Linked DNA regions of Homo sapiens. The protein of the gene in region 2 interacts with the protein of the main gene of each other region in a pairwise test. Each region holds a gene or a part of one and is shown on either strand. Other genes may lie near its edges.

The links. Proteins that work in one complex are often made in the same cells at the same time.
Region 1: the proteins of CSRP3 (region 2) and LIMS1 interact in a two-hybrid assay, tested with the Homo sapiens proteins (one large-scale study listed by BioGRID and IntAct).

The regions. Positions count from the first base shown.
Region 1 is NC_000002.12:108,673,885-108,677,534, reverse strand, and holds part of LIMS1 (LIM and senescent cell antigen-like-containing domain protein 1), read right to left. Parts: intron 1,658-3,650; coding exon 1,507-1,657; intron 930-1,506; coding exon 837-929; intron 741-836; exon of another isoform or gene 605-740; intron 222-604; exon of another isoform or gene 44-221; intron 1-43. UniProt on the Homo sapiens protein: Within the IPP (ILK-PINCH-PARVIN) complex, binds to F-actin, promoting F-actin bundling, a process required to generate force for actin cytoskeleton reorganization and subsequent dynamic cell adhesion events such as cell spreading and migration.
Region 2 is NC_000011.10:19,191,880-19,195,529, forward strand, and holds part of CSRP3 (cysteine and glycine-rich protein 3), read right to left. Parts: intron 598-3,650; 5' UTR 570-597; coding exon 458-569; intron 1-457. UniProt on the Homo sapiens protein: Positive regulator of myogenesis. Acts as a cofactor for myogenic bHLH transcription factors such as MYOD1, and probably MYOG and MYF6.

The sequences.
Region 1 (3,650 bases), on a different chromosome or scaffold from region 2:
ATGGTCATAAAATGATTGCCCACAGATTGCTTCTTTCTTACAGAGGAGGGAAGGAAATTGTAATTCACAGTGATGTTATCAGCCAGCACCATGCCTGGGAGATCACCAGGGCAGGAGAGGTATAAAATGCTCCAGGGGCAAGGTTCTGAGAAGATGCCCTGCCACTGTATGAGGCCACAACCTGCTGTGTATAACCTCATCTAAGCACAGAGAAGCACCAGGTGAACCCAAGTGGAAAGTAGTCTATTAAAAAGGGGTTAGGGGCCCTCTGCATCCCTCCAAAATGTCAATGTCATCAAAAATTTTAAAAGACTCTGGAAACGTTCCAGATTTAAGAAGGCTAAAGAAACATCACAGCCAGAGGCTGGGTCCAGTCTGGGAGTGGAAAAAATGCTGTGAGGATATTGACTCAAGTGACAAAACTGGAATAAATGGTTAGAGTACGGTATCAATATTGATAACTACAATTATGTTAGAGAGTCCCATATTCTTGGGAAATATACACTGAAGTATTTAGGGATAAAGGAGTATGATGAACTTATTGGCAAAACAGCCATCGTACTTGTATATAATATTTACGTAACTATGTGTTTTACACAGGAAGACTGAGCTTGGGAAATGATAAAGCAAACTGTGGACTTGAATGAAAGACATACAGGTATTCTTTGTATATTTTATAGTTAGCTTCTGAGTCTGAAATTATTTCCCAAATAAAAAGTTAAAAACAAATCTCTACTGAACAATGTACATCTTCCAAGAGATTTCCTTGTAGCTAAACTACTGATAAGCTTAGGTTCATAAAAGTCTATCTAGCATCCAGTGACTAAGGTCAATACCTGGTTATAGTGAGTTTCACAATATGCCAGGCCTTTCCTCTCATAATGGCGATGTCCAAGAAAGGGTTTCTCACACTTGGCACAAACAAAATGCTGAAAAAAAATTGCTATAGGTCATTTTTGAATTGCCATATTTTATATCTAATAAAGTAAATACCAGAGTTAACCTATTTTCAGAGAAGATGAAGGAAAGTTTGAGACAGTCATTTCATTTGGCCATAGGTGGCCCCATAATATAATACTTCTGCAGTTGTAATTCAGGTGTCTGTCTTTGAAGGTTACTTTAAGACATAGCCTATTATAATAGCCCAAAAAGAGAATAGAGGTGAGCATCTCAGTAGCACCTATAAAGGAGGAGCTGCTGCTGGATACAGACCATGGCACTTCCTGCTTCAAGAAGGCTTTAGGAGCAAAAGTACACATCCTGTATCATTACTGAGACATTCACAAAAGCAGTGTACATTATATATTCTTAGCTGTCAGCAAAGTCAATTGTCTTTAAAATGTCCACGTTTAATCTTTAGAGTCTCCTAATCTTGCCAGGACACCTGAATCATGAAGATTTGAAAGTACTGGTTACCCCTGAATCATGGGAGATCTGAAAGTATTGGTTACCCCTTAATCATGGAGATTTGAAAGGATTGGTTACCCTTTGCCATTTAGAACTCACCTCCACATGCCACTGCTTGCCCATAGCGTTCACCACGCGCCCTTCGATGGGCCGTCGGCAAGCACCACAGATGGGGACCCCCATTTTATCATGGCATGGGAGGCAGTATAGCTCCCCTTTCAGCTCCCGTGCATCGGCAGTCAGCTCCTTCCTGTCCGTGAGAAAGACACACAGCTTAATACTAAGAGAGAAAAGTGGCCAACCAATGGGGCTAGCACACTTTTTAGAAGGTTTTTAAAGACATTACTATGACAATCCCTGCAAATTTCTTTTTTCCCCTTTAGAGGTGATCAGAATAACCTGAATTAATAGGCCTGAACAGGTTTCAGACTCCTACCAAAACATCTGTATCTTAAAAGGATAAGATGCAAGACTAGGTCAGATACATACCACCACACCAGTCATATTCATAATTTCCTTCTTATATTATCACATTACATTTTAGTCCATTTGTCTTCCTCTAAAAGCTACAGGGAATAATCACAGTGCTGAGGGTAGACTCAGTAATACTATCTGCTATGGTGTGACTGTGTCCCCAAAGTTCATGATCCCCAATTCTGAGGTGTTGAGAGGTAGGACCTCTAAGGGGTGATTACATCATGAAGGCTCTGCCCTCACAGATGGATTAACGCTGTTACTGAGGGGGTGGGTTCCTTATAAAAGGACGAGTTCAGCCTCCTTCCTTCTCTTCCTTCCCCCCTCCTCTTCCCCCACCATGTGATGCCCTCTGCTATGTAATGATGCAGAAGAAGGTCCTCACCAGATGCCAGCCCCTTGATCTTGGACTTCCCAGCCTCCAGAACCATGAGCCAAATAAACTTCTGTTGGTTACAAATTACCCAGTTTGTGGTATTCTGTTACAGGCGCATAAAATAGACTAACACACGACCTTTCCAAGCAAACTGAGAAGTTGGGAGACTAGTTCCATTTACTAACAATTATTTAAATTGTCACAAGCTGTTGAAAATAGTTATAGGTTAATAGGTTTATTTTCATAAACAACAAAATGCCCAGAATTTTCCTTCTCCAAATACTCAAATTAAATATTATTTTCAGTCTCCTGCATCAATAAACATTTGGTCAGAGATGGTCCCAATTAGTCAAACGGACTTGTTTGAATTTCATCCCTTTTATGTAATTCTCTAGGAGAGATGCTAATGAAAAGTGGACAGAGGTGAATCCCCAAGAGGAAGGACAGGCAAGAAAACGAGATAAGGCACAAACTGATAATTCAATCACAAAAGATGAGATGGCTGAACTTATACAACCAAACTGTTTTCTTTCTTTCTCTTTTTTTTTTTTTTTTTTTGAGACGAGTCTTGCTTTGCTGCCCAGGCTGGAGTGCAGTGGCGCGATCCACACTCACTGCAAGCTCCACCTCCCAGGTTCATGCCATTCTCCTGCCTCAGCCTCCCGAGTAGCTGGGACTACAGGCACCCACCACCACGCCTGGCTAATTTTTTTATTCTTAGTAGAGATGGGGTTTCACCATGTTAGCCAGGATGGTCTCGATCTCCTGACCTCGTGATCCACCCGCCTCGGCCTCCCAAAGTGCTGGGATTACAGGCGTGTGCCACTGCACCTGGCCCAAACTGTTTTCTTAGTATTTGGCTTACTGTTTCTTCTCCATCCCTACTATAATTTAGCAAGTAAGTTCACATTAACTACAGTAAAGAATATTTTTTTATTTTTATTTTTTGAGATGGAGTCACGCTCTGTCTCCCAGGTTCGAGTGCAGTGGTGCGATCTCAGCTCACTGCAACCTCCGCCTTCCGGGTTCCTGCCATTCTCCTGCCTCAGCCTTCCAAGTAGCTGGGACTATAGGCACCCGCCACCGTGCCCGGCTAATTTTTTTTGTATTTTTTAGTAGAGACGGGGTTTCACCGTGTTAGCCAGGATGGTCTTGATCTCCTGACCTCGTGATCTGCCCGCCTCGGCCTCCCAAAGTGCTGGGATTACAGGTGTGAGCCACCACGCCCGGCCAAGAATCTTTATCCACTAAATTTTTATACTAGGCAGCAAACTGAGAAAAATTCATAGCCCAACAATTTATCATAACTTATTGAAGACAAAAAATTAAATATATTTCTTTTAGATATAAACCAAGCCAAATTAAATAAATGTAACAACATCTTTTAAGATAA
Region 2 (3,650 bases):
CCTGCCTGACATAGGTTCTCTCTCAGACAAGACCAGTCACAGCTGGCTTCAGTCACAGCTGACCAGAAGGGGCAACATAGACAGCCAAATCCATCCTGGCTTCAGATAAGTGCTGGCTTCCTTTCTCTGCCAAGTCACATGTTGTCAATGTCGCCATGGGGTCAAAGTTTTCCCTACAGAGAGCAGTGACAGGCTAGCTTGTTCTGACGTTGAGCTACAGGAAAATGAATGGCCTCTGAGCTGGGCAAGCAGTTGAAGCAAGGGTATTCAGGAGAGCACCATCTTTTCTTGGTGGAGCCCAAGAGTTAAATTTCTAACCAGTTCCCAGGTAATGCTGATGCTGCTTGTCCCAGGACCACACTATGAGAACCACTGGCATACAGTGTTTGTGATTCAATGTGAATTTTGTGATGCTGTCCGGATGCTGAGGGGCCCCCAGGGTGTCCACCCAACTCACTGCAGTGGAAACACGTCTTGTGGAAACTCCTTCCATTGCACTGGATTTCTTCTGCATGGTAGACGGTCTTTTCACAGGCTCCACATTTTGCGCCTCCGCCCCAGTTTGGCATCTTGAAGACTATCTGGTCAAGGTCAAGTCTAAGGGGACATAAAGCAAATACCCTACATTGAAGTGGCCCCAGGAGTGAACCAATCTCTAAGAGTGCAGTGGTCTGAAGACCAGGATCCAGCCCAATTTTTTTTTAGTGTTTCATTTATTCATTCATTTAGCAAACAGCTACTGTGTGCTAGTCATTAAATAAGCTCAGACACTTAGATGGCTTTGGGTAATCACTTTACCACTTGGGAACTCAGTTTCTTCTCCTGTTAAATTTCAGTAACATCTATTCCTATGTATCTCACAGGGCTCCCGGAAGGAATGAATAGGCTAATTTCATGTACATAAAAGTATATACAAAGATCGTTTTTTTTTTCATCTCAAGTTTAAAAAATTATCCCATCAGAACTGGGAATCATCTGTGAAGATGGTATTTTCTTCTTGTCTAGCTAAGAGCTTCTCAAATCACCTTAGACCTTGCTAAATGCAGATTCTGGTTTGGTAGATCTGGGGAGAGGCAGGAAATTCTGCATTTCTAACAGACTCCAGGCAATATTGATGCTGCTGGCAGTGGACTACATTTTGGGTAGCAAAATCTTAGCTTATCTTGCTGATAGAAAAGCATATTAATAATATATAAAATCTCCTATTCCAAGTTATTCCTCATATCCATACATTCCTTTTTAAGAATATAATCACCTAGGCTATAAGATATATTGGCACTACACTAGGTCAGTAGTTGGAAACTTGCTTTCTGCTTTCAGGGCTACCCTCTACCTGCTGTTCATATCAGGATGAACTACATAGCTTAACTTTATACCTGTTTTCCCACCTATACAGTTATTCTTTTCCCTGCTGCTTTAGTGTCCTTTAGAAAATCAAACGACATGATGTGCAGGAAGGTCCCACAGAGTTCACAGTGCTCAACAGGAGCCAGACCATGGTGCTGACATGTCCTCCTGCACCATTGGAGACATTCAGCTACAAGGAGCTGCTAATAGCCACAGCCCCAGGACTGTCATTGTCTCCTCACCACAGGATTACATTTAAGAGATATTAACCAAAGAAAATTATTTAAAAAAATAATTGTCCTCTGTATTTTTAGTAGAGACGGGGTTTCACCATGTTGGCCAGGCTGGTCTCAAACTCCTGACCTCAAGTGATCTGCCCGCCTTGGCCTTCCAAAGTGCTGGAATTACAGGCTTGAGCCACCGTGCCCGGCCTAAACAAAAATTAGCCAGGTGTGGTGGTGGGCACCTGTAATCCCAGCTGCTTGAGAGGCTGAGGAAAGAGAATCACTTGAACCCAGGAGGCGGAGGTTGCAGGGAACCAAGATTGTACCACTGCACTCCAGCCTGGGCAACAGAGCGAGACTCCGTCTCAAAAAATAAATAAATAAATAAAATAGTAATAATAATTGTCCTCATCTGCATATGTTTTTAGTATGAATCCAAGTTTTCAGTTTCCTCAAAGCAGAACTAAAATAAGCCATTGATGTTAAATGAAACTTCTGAAATTCAGCTGCCCAGGGGAGCTGCATTTTCACTGGGATCCTCTGGTTTCTAAGAAGCCTAGTGTGTCATGACATGGAGCACTATCCAGCCATTCTGAGTGGCTGCTTGTGACCTTCACTTTCCCTTCTGGGAAGCCAGTCACCTTCTTATAATAGTTGGCGATTAACACTAAGCCCTCCTGGGTCAACTGGTCCGGATTGTATCTCACAGTCTCATAACAAAGGCAGTTTTTTGCTAAGAAACAGAAAGTAAATAGCAAACAGACCACTGAACCTGATACTAGGTCTAGAAGGAATGTTTCTATCTAAATATTCCCCCAAAGAGCTTTTCCTGCTTAGAAAAACTGTGAGGTTAGCCAGGAACATCCTATCCTTCCTCTCACAGAAGTAGGATCTTCTGCTAATTCAGTAAAATTTTAGAAAAGAACTTTAAAAAAGGAAACATTGGGCTGGGCATGGTGGCTCACACTTACAATCCCAGGACTTTGGGAGGCCAAGGCAGGAGGATCACTAGCCCAGGAGTTTGAGACCAGCCTGGGCAACATAGTGAGGCCCCTGTCTCTACCCCACCCCCCAAAAAATTACCCTGGTGTGGTGGCATGCTCCTGTAGTCAGTCCTAGCTACTCAGCAGGTTGAGGCAGGAGAATCACTTGAACTCAGGAGTTCTAGGCTTCAATGAGCTATGATCACACCACTCTACTTCAGCCTAAGTGACAGAGTGAGGCCCTGCCTCTAAAATAAATAAATAAGAATTTCTTAAAAAATGGAAGCATGTGGTTTTTCTATTTCTGTAGTTCGGGTTGTTTAGGAAACTAGAAAGAGTAATGGATTTTGAGTTGAAAGACTTAGAATTAAAACTCACATTCATTCGTTCATTCATTCATTCACCCTGCATTTACTACCTGCCTATCATGTGTCAAGTACTGCACTAAGTACTCAGTGACAAAAGGGGGAAAACTTATAAAAATGAGTAGTTTGTGACCCCTGGCATTGAGAAGCCCATGTTGTAGTGAGAAAAATAGACAAGATTCAGAATGCTCTGTACCAGAGAAGAGTCTTGTGAGACATGCTACAGAAACTCAAATGACGGACTGGCTCCCCACATTTAGTCTGGGGATAAAGGCAGTGAACTGTTGGAGGGTCACAGAAGAGATCACATTCAAATGGGGGTTTGAAGGGTGAATAGGAGTTCACCAGATACAGAAAAGTGGGAAGGAATAATGCTAATGAAGTCATGCAGAGAAAAGAGCAAGCAGAAAGGCGTAGAGGCCTAAATAGCCTCTAAAATAGCCCAAATTTGTTTATTTTGGACTCCATTTAAACTACAGACTTTCAGGGCTGGAATAGATTTTTAAGATTGCTGGACCCTCTCATTTATAACCAAGGTGTATTTAAAAGTAAGCATTTAGGGATATTTTTCTTAGCCAACTTCTTTTTATACAATCCATTCTTCTCTCATTAAAGATGTTACATTTTCTAGAAAAGAATAGACTCACATAATTTTGCTCATGTTCATTTTGATCCTGAGTTTCAGCATGATACAAAATAGAGGAGAAATATAATAAATTTCCTCCAGGAAC